Linked DNA regions of Homo sapiens: all the other regions are reported to be linked to region 2. Evidence: microRNA targets listed by miRTarBase, many of them from high-throughput screens and not tested one by one. Region 2 holds a microRNA gene; each other region holds the end of a gene's coding sequence.

Region 1 (3,000 bases), not on the chromosome of region 2:
AGAATCCAACTTATTTTTCAAGTTTAAGAGTTAACCTAAAGAATGCACATTTTAAACTCAAGCTCCATAAACTTATAGCTTTTTGTTTGACCAAAAATATGTCAAACGTTTGGGCAAATAGATATAACATGGTAAAAGTAGTTTGAAACTTGAAATATTCTTTCTTTTTTCCTTTCCTCATCTATCCCTTGCTGTATTCAAAAATGGCTAGTTTCTCAGTCTTTTTCATGTTTTCCGTAAAATATAAGAGTAGTAAAATATGGTATACCCATTGGACCATTTGGAAACAATTGAATGGTACATAAATACAAGTTCAAATCAGAGATGTTTTCCCTTCCAAGTTAAGGATGTTGGTCCTGAAAAATAAATTCAGAAAACAAATAGGCACAAAAAGCTCATGGAAAACATGTGCATATTAGAACTTTAACATTTAAATTACAGTGTACATAGTTTTTAATACAGAATTTTAGGCATCTTTGAATCCTGTGCATCATAAATAATGAGTCTTTTTTGCTTTAGCTCATGGGTAAAATATATTAAATACTGACTAATTACAAATCTAATATTTGTTTTGGCATTCTTTTCAATGTTTCAAAACAAAATTATCAGGTTGTTTTAAAATTATGTTTTATTTTTATATTATGAAAATTAAGGCATGAAAATTATACACATCTTTCACATGAGGATTTTTCATTTTCTTCTTGTACCTTTAAAAGTTAACTTAAAACACTTGCCTCAGACTTTTGCCCTTGTAGCAGTATAAACTGGATAATCACTTATGTAGAAAAGATTAATGAATAATTTTTAGCAAGTTTAAGTTTTGGTTCCATGCTTCTTAAAAAAAAATCTTTAATTCCTGCCTCACTTTTCTAACAGGAAATATTAGTAACTGATGAATAAGTAGGTGATAATACTAATGAAAACGTTGGACAAATGTACTGATTATAATTTTATATTGCATTCCTTCATGTAAGTTGGTTACATTTATTGAAAATTAAAAATACACTAGCTATCATGGCAGAATTGAAAATGTAGAAATGTTATGATGTTCTATAACGATCATTATGAATGACTTCCAGGTACTCTATCACCTGAAAAGTCTAAGAATCACAGACTTAACATCTATTATGGCTGTGTCTCAACAGGCAAATAAAATCCTAGGCCACTAACAACTGATCATTCCAATATTCTTCTGGTATGTCAATGTGGTATCACAGGCAGCAAGAGATAAAGTTTCAGTCTTGGCTTTCCAGCTCCAGTGCACACAAATAGAATAAAATCTATTTCATATGACTAGTCCATATAGATTATTTCTCATTATGTTCAATAAATATTAACTTTACCAAAACCATAATTATTTGCCCTTCTCATTGCTAATGCCTTAGAGGTACATTAATATTGAGTAAGACTGCATAGTTGCTGAATGATTTACTAACTTTCTCATTTCATTTTAAGCCGCAGAACAATGATCTTTGCACTTTGTACTTAATTTTCATTTCTTGTAAACAATAACCAAATAACAATAAGACTAACATTATGAAATTTATTTTATTTTCTACACTTCGTCTAACTTTTATTGCTATTATAGCCCAGTTTGATTTAAAGGATAATAACAAAAGAGCACTAAACCAGAGAGTCAGGAGAACTTCATTTGATTTCTCGATCTTTCCTTAAGTAAAGTGCATGATTAGGGCAAGTCTGAGTGTCAATTTTCTCAAAAGCAAAGTAGGAAAAATAGTATTTGTTTCAAAACATTGTCATCAACATTAAGGTGAAATGATGTAAATGGGGATTGTAAATTATAAAGTACTATTCCAATGTATGTTATTACTATGATTCTCAGAATCCTTAAGTTCCTTTATACCATTGCAGTTCTTAAAATGTAGACTCATCCTTGGGCAAAAAAACAAGCTGTGTATTTCTGAACAGAAGTTGCAATAGGTAATTCTGCTAAGGAAATTATCAGGTTGAGACATTGTTTGGATACTCCTTTTCTGTATTGGCAATTCTCTTTTTAAAATGAAAGGATTTATTAAAAATATTTAAGATTTGTACTAAAATTAATTTGTTATATGCCCTCATTAAGATGCTTAAAGTCCAAAATTTAAAAATATGGCATTTTATACATTTTAGCCATGCTTTTTTCTTTCAACAAATGCCATTAAAACAATTTTTATATTGAAATTATTTATAAAACTGTCAGCTATTTTGTACAGGTTTAGTTGGCCACTAGCAATAATCAATTTGAATTCTAGCTATTAAACCTAATATCAACCATAAATGGACTAAATGTCACTCAAAGTTTGAATCTTATGCACTTGGTATCAACCCAAATGCTGCTCAGTTTAACTTGTTTCATTTCCAGAATATTGCCCATGTTTGTTAAGAACTTCAGACACACCACATATACATAGTAAATCTGGTATTCATCATGAATTCACCTAGAAAATCCTGTTTTACAAGTGCATTAGGCCTTCACTAGGAATTAGTATAAGTCATAATGACTGACCTTACATAATGCATTTGTTTATTTTCTTCTGAAAAGTCAGATCATATACTTCCTTAATGCTAAAATCTTATAAAACATGTCTTGCTGCCTTTTTTTCTCTGTGCTTAGCTTAACATACTTCATGCAGTATAACAGAATGTCTTTGAGCCTTTATCTAATAATTAACTTTTAAAATATGTCAAAACAAATTAAGATGTCTCATCTTCATTTTTAATTGTTTTCAGCACTGAGTCTTCTCCCAAAATTTTACATAGTTCATTGAGTCTCTGCTGCATTTTGGGAATTCCAGCTAGCTGAGATTCTAGCTTTTGTTTTTCTTCACTCAATGTCAAACGGATAGCAGTATCCAATTGTTCAAAGCGCCAACCTCCTTCACCATCAAACTGTAATAAATGTGTGTGGTATTTCCTGCATAATTAAAATGAAATAATATTATTAGCCATAATGTTGAAAAATCATTTTAGTTGTAGGTTTATCATTCAAATTGATAC
Region 2 (3,184 bases):
CTTTACACTCCAGTGATACTGAACTATTTTTGTAACTTGTGTTTAGGGATGTTACAGCTTTGGAAGTCTTTGAGCCAGCATGTAAAGGGCGAGCAGGTGGACTGGGGCACAGGGCTGTTCCATGGGCAGTGATTTAGAAGGAGCAGGAACTGTGGGGATGGAGATGGTCTCCTTAGAAACAGTTTTATGGGATCTAGGTGTGGCATTTGGACTTTTTTTCTTTTTTTGTTTTATGGCCAAATTGTGCTTCACTTATCTGCCTGCCTATGTGGTTGCCTTAGGCAGAGTGATAGAATCCCAGGGTAGAGGGCAGGGACTTACTCTGTGTTGCTCCAGAAGACACAGGTAGGATCGGGGGTGGAAATTATTTGATGCTTGTTGTAGCTCAGTACAGTTAAAAACTCTCTGACAGTTGTTGCTGCTCAACAGCCCACTGAGCAGCTTGGAAACAGTAGTGAGCTCTCTTCATGGAGGCGAAGGATCTGTCACCAGAGTGAAGGATCTATACTGTTGCAGGAGCCAAAGAACAGAATCCTGCACTGGGAAAGAGGTTGGTCAAGATGACTTTGATTATAACTACCAAATTAACCAACATCCGAGTACTTACTAAGAACTAGGCACGTAATAGATAGCTAAGTGCTTTATATACAGTGTCTCATTTATTTCCTACATCATCTTTTTTAATCTTTAGAATAAGCCTGGCAGCTAAGAACTCTGGTTCTCCCCATTTTACAGATGAAGAAACTGAGGTTTATTGGTAGGAAGCCTCAGTTTCTCTAAGGTCACACAGCTGGTAAGTGATAGAGCCACATTCAGATCCTGGACTCTGATTATGGACCCGCTCCCTCTACACTCTGCAATGCTGCCTGTAGTATTCCCGCCTGCTTTGACATCCTAAATGTGGGGAAATGTGTTTGTGTCATGTTTTCTTAGCAGATAAGCAACCAAGGAAGGATGAAATTCAAAAGGACAAGGTCTGGATCTTTTTCTGTACTTAGCACTGTGCTTGGCATTTGGGATCAGCAGTGCAAACAGGTAGTAGCCAAAGGAGGATGAAACACTGGGTTAGAAAGAAAAAGTCCTGCTAGAACATTAAAAAAAAAAAAAATGATTTCACGGAGAACCCTGACTCATAATAGGAACTGGTTTTTTTAAAAAAGGAAGTAATAATATGTAGTGAGTATACTTTACTGCAGTCAACTATATATATTCAAAGAGCATAAAATATGAAGCCAGTGAGTGAGTGATCCTTTTATTAATTAAAAAAGAAGTTGAGTTGGGCGCGGTGGCTCATGCCTGTAATCCCAGCACTTTGGGAGGCCGAGTTGGGCAGATCACAAGGTCAGGAGTTCAAGATCAGCCTGGCCAACATAGTGAAACCCTATCTCTACTAAAAATAGAAAAATTAGCCAGGCGTGGTGGCACATGCCTGTAATCATAGTTACTCAGGAGGCTGAGGCAGGAGAATTGCTTGAACGCAGGAGGCGGAGGTTGCAGTGAGCTGAGATCGCACCACTGCACTCCAGCCTGGGGGACAGAGCAAGACTCTGTCTCAAAAAAAAAAAAAGAAGATGAATTAGTAGAGCATGAAGAATAATGAATGAGTTGCTAGGTAATTTGCCATTCCCTCTGCCTGGATGCCTTTTCCTCCAATTGCCAGTTAGTTTTAAGGCCACCCTTCTCTGAAATAACATAGTACTTTGTACTTGGGTCATGGTATTTATCACAGACTTCCTTTTATTATAGTTAATTCTGTACATGTTTAATCTTTCTTACTTGATTCTAAGCTCTTTAAGGACAGGGTCCACATCTTATCTTCATTTCCTTCTTCCAGCTCTTAACAATCTGTGATGTTAAGCATATTTGAAAATAGACATTGTTAGAGATTATGTTCTTTTAGTGAAAAATCGGCCAGGTGCTGTAATCCCAGCACTCTGGGAGGTTGAAACAGAAGGATTGCTTGAGCCCAGGAGTTTGAGATCAGCCTGGGTAACATGGTGAAACCCTGTCTCTACAAAAAATACAAAAATTAGCTGGGTGTGGTGATGCAGGTCTGTGGTCCCAGCTACTCTGGAGGCTGAGGTGGGATCACTTGAGCCTGGGAGGCCATGGCTGCAGTGAGCCATGATCACGCCTCTGCTCTGCAGCTTGAGTGATAGTGACAGAGCAAGACCCTGTCTCAAAAAAAAAAAAGAAAAAAATCAGTGAATGCCTTGAACCTAACACACTGCCTTTTATGTGGTAGGTACAGTGGGCTCACTGAAACATTCAACTTGTTCAACTCTATCCATTTGTCCAAAAACAAAAAGGAAATGAAAAATTCTAAATACAGTACGAATATGCCCTCAATTCTACTTAATTAGTATATGTCTGGAATGAGTGTGACATGGAAGATTTGAATCTGCTCTTCTTTGCCTCTGCTCTCATGTGCCTGTGCTCATGTGTATCGTAGAGTGCTTAGAGTGATTCTAATGCTTAAAACAAATTTTCAATCTCTGTGGCCCCTAAACCAGCCAGCCGTTTCATCTGATGTGTAAGACAAGGCTCCACTGGATTCATTCATTGCCCACTGAAACAATGTATGATCCTGTGAGTGAAAGAGAGAAAGAAATCAATGGCTAGGGATTGAATGTCTTGTGGAATTTTATGACAAGAAGACATCTAGGGAAAACCATGGAAATGTCCAGTCTGAAGATCAAACAGTTCATAAAAGTGATTCAGAAGACACTAAGAGCAGGTGAAAGGGAAAAACAGAACTTTACAAAGCAAAGTTGCTTTCTTGGCTTGCTTTCTTCAGAGCTGCTTAGGACCAGACAGCTCTATGTGCCTGAGAGTTCCTGAAGGAATCTTAGCATTAAAATACAATTTACCATGAAATACTATGCAGCCATAAAAAAAGGATGAGTTCATGTCCTTTGCAGGGACATGGATAAAGCTGGAAACCACCATTCTCAGCAAACTAACACAAGAACAGAAAACCAAACACGACATGTTTTCACTCATAAATGGCAGTTGAACAATGAGAACACATGGGCACAGGGAGGGGACCATCACACAACAGCACCTCTCGGGGGTAGGGGGCTAGGAGAAGGGTAGCATTAGGAGAAATACCTAATGTAGATGACCAGTTGATGGGTGCAACAAACCACCATGGCACGTGTATAGCTATGTAAAAACCTGCATG
Region 3 (3,000 bases), not on the chromosome of region 2:
AGAGGCTGGGCTGGAGAGAGAAGTGGGGTTGTAGGGCATCTATGACAAAAAGAAACTGTTGAGAGAAAGGGCAAAGATGAAGGATTGAGTCTAGAGGTATAAAACGTTGTAGCTAATTGTGGATCAGGAGGGGAGAGGAAGAAGTCCCGGAGCAAAGGCTGTGAGCTGTAAGCAGTGGGCTGGGACCAGCTACCTGAAAGCCAGGGGCCACTGCCTATGCCTGATGCCCGGCTTCCTCCTGCAGGTGTCCTATGAGGATGTGGACCACCTGCGGCCCCATGGGGTGCTGGATAATACCCGGGTGCCCCACTTCATGCAGGACTTGGCACGCTACCGGCAGCAGCTGGAGCACATCATGGCCACCAACCGGCTGGATGAGGCGGAGCTGGGTCGCCTGCTACCCGACTGATGTCCGTTGAGGGCTGCAGTCAGAGGCCCTGGACAGAAGCTCCAGATAGGCCCCTAGAACATGAAGCAGTTTGCTCTGTGCGTCCACGGCCTAGGTGTTTCTTGGGGGTGTTGGGAGGGCAGGAGCATTCCTTGAGGAGGAGTGGCAACATCAAAGTGTTTGTGTCCCTTGCCAGCCTCCCTGGGGTCTGGGGACCTGCAGCAGCATGTCTGGCAAACTGAGTCGCCCTCCTGCCTCCAGCTCTCTGTTGAGCAGAGGGAAGGCATGGGGGCAGGAAGAGAGCTGAGCATTGATGGGGATGGGGGTGGTTTGGGAATAGAAACTTGTTCTTGCATGAGATGGCTTTGGTTGTCCCAGTACTCCAGTCTCTCCCTTCCCTTACCTGGCCCCTTGGTGCTCCTTCAGCATTTGTGCTGTCTACCTCTCACTGGGTCCTGGTGGGGGTCGGGCTCCCTTCTCCTGGGGTGATTGATGGCCTGAGCCTGGGGTCCTGGTAGTAGAGACCCAGCTGGCCTGGGGTCTGCTTTCCGACATTTTGCCTCTCTCACTGGTCATGTATTTATTCCATATTTATATGGTCTACTTCCTGTGGCTGGGAGCAGCAGCTCCTGAAGGTTCCGTGGGGGTGCGGGGGGTTGGACAGGACACTCCTTCTTGGAAGGCACCAATTTTCCCAGCCCCACTCCCATTACACACACACACACACACACACACACACACACACACACACACACACACACACACACACACACACACTGATTCAGGCCTTGAGAGTCAAGCCCAAGAGCTCCCTTGGCCCTGTTCCCCACTCCCTCCACTGGCCTCTGCTGTTCCTGTCTTTGCTCACACCCTCACAGCTGCTCTCTGGCAGAGGTTGGCATAGCCTAGGAGCAGCTGCAATTGCACCTGAGGGACAGGCCCTAGAGTTTGGTGGCCCAAGTCCTGAACCCCTCTTAGACCAGGTGAGGTGCAGAGGTGGTTGCTGCTTCCAGTTTCCCTTCAGACTTAGCTGTGTGAACCCCACTCCTATCCTTTGGCCTTAGTTTTCCCATCTGTAAAACTCAGAAACGCAGTTGGAAAGTCCTTATTCATTTAGTAAGCGAATATATTATAATATGTATAGAGCGCCTTTTGTGTAAGTCACTGGTCAGAATCCTCACTGAGCTCCCAGTCCAGAGAGAAGCCAGACAATTAAAACAGTAATGACAATGATGTGTGTGGCCTTTGTCTACTCAAGGTCCCTTTCTGCTCCCCTCTTCTAGTCTCACTTCCCAAGGCTGTGAGCTCTAAGCCCTCCCTATGTGGAGAGAAGTCACCCTCCCCTTGCTCCATGTTCAGCTCAGGAACTTGCGTGGGGTTGAGCTGGTACCTACATATGCTGCCAAGTGGCTCACCAGGGGAAATGGGTTGTGTATGCGGGCAGGAGGGTCAGGTCCTTGTCCCACTAGGGGGCTAGGTTTGGGATCTCCAGGGTGCAGCCTGGACTCCTAAGGGCAGATTAGGGCTGAGGACTGGATGATGCTCGTGGTGGGCTTGGGCCTGCCCAGGTCCCTGGGACTCAGAGGTACCCACCCTAAGTTCCTGGGCAAACAGCCAGAATCGTGGAGAGAGCCCAGGTCCCGTCCGACCCTCCGGAGTTTATTCACTTCCAGCGGTACTGGGCTGGACCGAGCCTTGGTGGCATCCGATTCAGCTCCAGCAGCATCCCAGGTCCTATCCAGCATGGGCGGGGCACCGCCTGTCAGAGCTCTGGCCTTCAGGAATCTAGAGATGACGGGAACAGTGGTCAAAGAGGTGGGGTCCGGCATCCGCTTCCCAGGCCATGCCCTCCCGCCAAGCCGGCTCAGGGTTTGGGCGGACTCACACCTTCGGACTCGTCCCTTTCCTCGAAGTCGGGCTCGGGCTCTGGGTCCGGTTCTGGCTCCAGTTCCGGCTCTGGTTCTGCTTCAGCCTCGGGTTCCAGCTCTGGCTCTGGCTCCGGCTCCGGTTCAGCCTCTTTAGAGGCCTCAGCTTCCAGCTCTGGCTCTGGCTCCTCCGGGGTCCCGGATTGCACCGCCTCGGAGCCCTCAGGGCCCCCGGCCTCGTCAGGGTCTGAAGCTCTGGGCAACCCGGGGCATGTGGTCCCCGAGCCGGGTGCCTCCGGCGTCCAGTGGCCTGGGCATGGAGGGTCATAGCTGCGGTCCCGGTAGCCTGGGGCGGAAGTGGGAGTGACTGAGGCTCAATTTACCCCTGTGCGGTTTCACACTCGCCTACTTCTAGCGGAGACGACAACCCTGCCCTCCCCGGGCCTTTTGTCTGCCCCAGCCCCGTCCCTGCTCTGCCCTAGGCCCCGCCCCGCGCGCTCACCCGGACCCACGTGCTGCCAGTCCCAAGCGGGGTCCGGCGCGCCCGCGGTACGCTGGGCACAGCGTAGCAGCTCCTGGCAGGCGGCCTCGCCCTTGCCCTGCACCAGCAGCAGTAGGCGGCGCACCCTGCGCTCGGCATCAGGCAGTGCATCCAATGCCTCGTACTCTGGCCCGGTGAGCACGCCCCGCGCCAGCAGCGCGTCCAACAGCAGTCCCGAGTCCGCCTGCAGCGTCTCGACCAGGCGT
Region 4 (3,184 bases), not on the chromosome of region 2:
GGGAATTTTTGGAACACACCTACTTTTATCACCTGACTAGGCGGGATATCCGTCACAACTTTTCTCCGTACTTCTACATGCTGTATTTGACTGCAGAGAGCAAGTGGAGTTTTTCCCTGGGAATTGCTGCATTCCTGCCACAGCTCATCTTGCTTTCAGCTGTGTCTTTCGCCTATTACAGAGACCTCGTTTTTTGTTGTTTTCTTCATACGTCCATTTTTGTGACTTTTAACAAAGTCTGCACCTCCCAGTACTTTCTTTGGTACCTCTGCTTACTGCCTCTTGTGATGCCACTAGTCAGAATGCCTTGGAAAAGAGCTGTAGTTCTCCTAATGTTATGGTTTATAGGGCAGGCCATGTGGCTGGCTCCTGCCTATGTTCTAGAGTTTCAAGGAAAGAACACCTTTCTGTTTATTTGGTTAGCTGGTTTGTTCTTTCTTCTTATCAATTGTTCCATCCTGATTCAAATTATTTCCCATTACAAAGAAGAACCCCTGACAGAGAGAATCAAATATGACTAGTGTATGTTCCACACCCTCTGCTACTGTGTTACATTCTGATTGTCTTGTATGGACCAGAAGAGAGCTTTGGGACATTTTTTCTGAACATTCTAAGCATTCTAGTGAAAGTTCCCATGTTCCAACAGAACTTAAAAGCAATGTTTGCCTTATATATAAAAGGGACACAATAATTGAGGTCCACCTTCTAGGAAATCCTAGGACTCGTTTATTTGGGACATGGTGGGAATAAAGGTCACATATTGGAAAATGGAAAGGCTGATGAAACTATCAGATACTAAAACATTCTTAAAATAGAGGAATATAGTTAGAGACATCAGGTTTAAGCCAGTATTTGTTCCTGTTTTACAATGCTTCTGTCTTAAGCTGTGTCTTAACTTTTAACACCCATCTTTTCTTTCTAAAGCTTTCCTGACAGCTGTGAAAATCCAAAAAATATTCTTAAACTGTGTATGGTGGCCCTTGCCTGTAGTCTCAGCACTTTGGGAGGCTGAGGTGGGAGGGTCGCTTGAGTTCAGGAGTTCTAGACCCACCTGGGGCAAGATGGTGAGACCTAGTCTCAAAAAAAAAAAAAAAAATTAGCCAGGTGTTGTGGTGCACCCCTGTAGTCATAGCTGCATGGGAGGCTGAGGTGGGAGAATTGCTTGAGCCCAGAGCAAGACCCTGTCTCAAAAAAAAAAAAAAAAAAAAAAAGGAAAGGACAACTTTTTAGATAGAAAAGTATTAAATAATACTAAGATGCTTAGTAGTATTATTTTAGAGAGTTTTAAACTTCTATATTAAATGTGGGGTCTTACAAGATAATCCAAAGACTTTGGGAGGCCAAGGCGGGCAGATCACGAGGTCAGGAGATTGAGACCATCCTGGCTAACACGGTGAAACCCCTCTCTACTAAAAATACAAAAAATTAGCCGGGCGTGGTGGGTGCCTGTAGTCCCAGCTACTCCTCGGGAGGCTGAGGCAGGAGAATGGCGTGAACTCCGGAGGTGGAGCCTGTAGTGAGCCGAGATGGCACCACTGCGCTCCAGCCTGGGCGACAGAGCAAGACTCCATATCAAAAAAAAAAAAAAAAAAAGATAATCCAAAGAATTTAAATTGTAATCATGTTTCATGTATTTGTTTTATTACTTACTTTTATAGCACTTAGTCCCAGTGGTATTAGACTGCTATTTGGTTTCATACAAAAAGGATTAAATTTAAATTCATTCATGTTTAGACTTGAGTTATTACATTTTTAAAACTATCATCTTGCCTTTAATGTTTGTGGTCCTACACAAACTATTAGTACATTTCAGTATCCTCTTACCCCTTTGTTTTTAAGTTTTTGATTGCTAAAGCAAGACTTTTTTCTTCTAGAATTTAAGTCAACCAAGTGTTATCTATGTTGTAAAAATGGATAATAGTAGATTTTAGGTGATAAAACAACTTGTTAGTAAGACATTTCCTAGCTTAAAAAAAAAAATCAAAAATTCCATGATAGAAATGCAGACCTGTGAGGGAAACTCCTGAAAAGCATAAGAAGCATCCCAGAGAGCCATGGGTTTTCTAGACCAGAGAATTTAGAGGGAGATTGTGGAACTGAGGCTTAGGTGGTCAGATCGTTTCCCTTATCACTGTAATATTTCTGGGGGAAAAATGCTTTCTGAGTTGTTTAAACAAGCATCCTTACATTTTTTTTTTTAATTAAACAGCCTGTCTAGGCTTGGGATTCCCTAATACTACAGTAGCAGTATATGAATATGATTTTGTGATTGTGTTTTTTAAAAGATAAGTAATTTGATGAACTGTTCTTTTGCAGTCAGAAAACACTCACAAAAAGACAAAAAAAGTTCCACAGTATTATATTTCATGTCAGTTCAGGCCTAAAATCCTTTGCAAATAAGATGTTTATAGGCTGGTCACAATTAACAATGTTATTATTGGCAGCACTTCTTGGATGGATACCTTTTGGGACCTTTCATTAGAAAGAGGGAAAGAATGGGGTGGTTTTGTATGGGCTCCTGTTTGGGGTAAAAATAGCAGAGTCAGTTGCTGAGGACAATGACCTTCCTTATAACATTTAGTTTCATACCCATATTAGGTCTTGTCTTGAGGACCCTTTATATGTGCTTGTTTACTAGTGGCCTTCCAGCCATAGCATTCTTACCTTTTTTTCCTATTCTAAGAATTAAAAAAAAAAATTATAGAGCCAGCAAGGGAGGAGGCAGGAAACAGAAATCGAATTTCATCATTCCAGTATAGTTGTCCCTTTTTTTGTATTTCTGACTTGGTTTTATAATTATATTTACTTACTAATTATTGTTTTTTAACATTCTTTATTGTGGCTTACTCTTCATACTTAGAATTGAAATTGTTGGACATCACATGTATATTCACATTATAAATACATCATTCTTCCACTGTTAGACCTTTAGATTGCTTCCAGTTTTTAATATTCTAAATAAGACTTTCAACATTTTCTGTGTTTTAGCTCATTCTCTTAGGACATTCTTAGAAGTTAGAAACATTTCTGCTGGGATCGTTGGAGGGAACTTCAAACTTTGGAATCTTTCCTGCAAGAAATTCTTTACCAAAGAAAGGCAGGTGTTTCTTAAAGGGATGCAAAAGATATTTTGCACTTTGTATGTTCCAAAACATTTAGTAAGTTAACTAAAAAAATGAGTTAA

What was found. The annotated mature microRNA hsa-miR-5094 reads AAUCAGUGAAUGCCUUGAACCU and lies in region 2 at 2,200-2,221, shown strand. An mRNA with a match to its seed (bases 2 to 7 or 8) in the 3' UTR can be bound and repressed. Matches are read on the target gene's strand: a 7mer-m8 pairs with bases 2 to 8, a 7mer-A1 pairs with bases 2 to 7 and ends in A, and an 8mer does both.
Region 1: miRTarBase lists ABCD2 as a target of hsa-miR-5094. The part of its 3' UTR that is shown has no 7-base or 8-base seed match.
Region 3: the mRNA of MATCAP1 is a reported target of hsa-miR-5094. Seed matches in the 3' UTR shown: 7mer-m8 at 1,163-1,169.
Region 4: miRTarBase lists PIGM as a target of hsa-miR-5094. The part of its 3' UTR that is shown has no 7-base or 8-base seed match.

What each region holds. Positions count from the first base shown.
Region 1 is chr12:39,551,215-39,554,214 of GRCh38, forward strand. ABCD2 (ATP binding cassette subfamily D member 2) reads right to left here. Exons shown (of 10, transcript NM_005164.4): 10 at 1-2,917. The coding sequence ends at 2,698. Among named protein-coding and RNA genes, the nearest start is that of ABCD2, 67 kb to the right of the region's middle.
Region 2 is chr15:89,849,727-89,852,910 of GRCh38, reverse strand. MIR5094 (microRNA 5094) reads left to right here and starts at 2,190; the gene lies at 2,190-2,274. All of the region lies in intron 8 of ARPIN-AP3S2 (ARPIN-AP3S2 readthrough), which reads left to right. All of the region lies in intron 4 of AP3S2 (adaptor related protein complex 3 subunit sigma 2), which reads left to right. RefSeq lists an enhancer at 1,145-1,194.
Region 3 is chr16:67,174,220-67,177,219 of GRCh38, reverse strand. It overlaps MATCAP1 (microtubule associated tyrosine carboxypeptidase 1), which reads left to right. Exons shown (of 7, transcript NM_001040715.2): 7 at 245-1,621. The coding sequence ends at 409. It overlaps NOL3 (nucleolar protein 3), which reads right to left. Exons shown (of 4, transcript NM_001276309.3): 2 at 2,756-3,000; 3 at 2,276-2,599; 4 at 1,483-2,173. The coding sequence ends at 2,166. Among named protein-coding and RNA genes, the nearest start is that of NOL3, 5.2 kb to the right of the region's middle. RefSeq lists silencers at 833-1,262, 2,636-2,895 and an enhancer at 2,793-3,000.
Region 4 is chr1:160,027,805-160,030,988 of GRCh38, reverse strand. PIGM (phosphatidylinositol glycan anchor biosynthesis class M) reads left to right here. Exons shown (of 1, transcript NM_145167.3): 1 at 1-3,184. The coding sequence ends at 521. Among named protein-coding and RNA genes, the nearest start is that of PIGM, 2.6 kb to the left of the region's middle.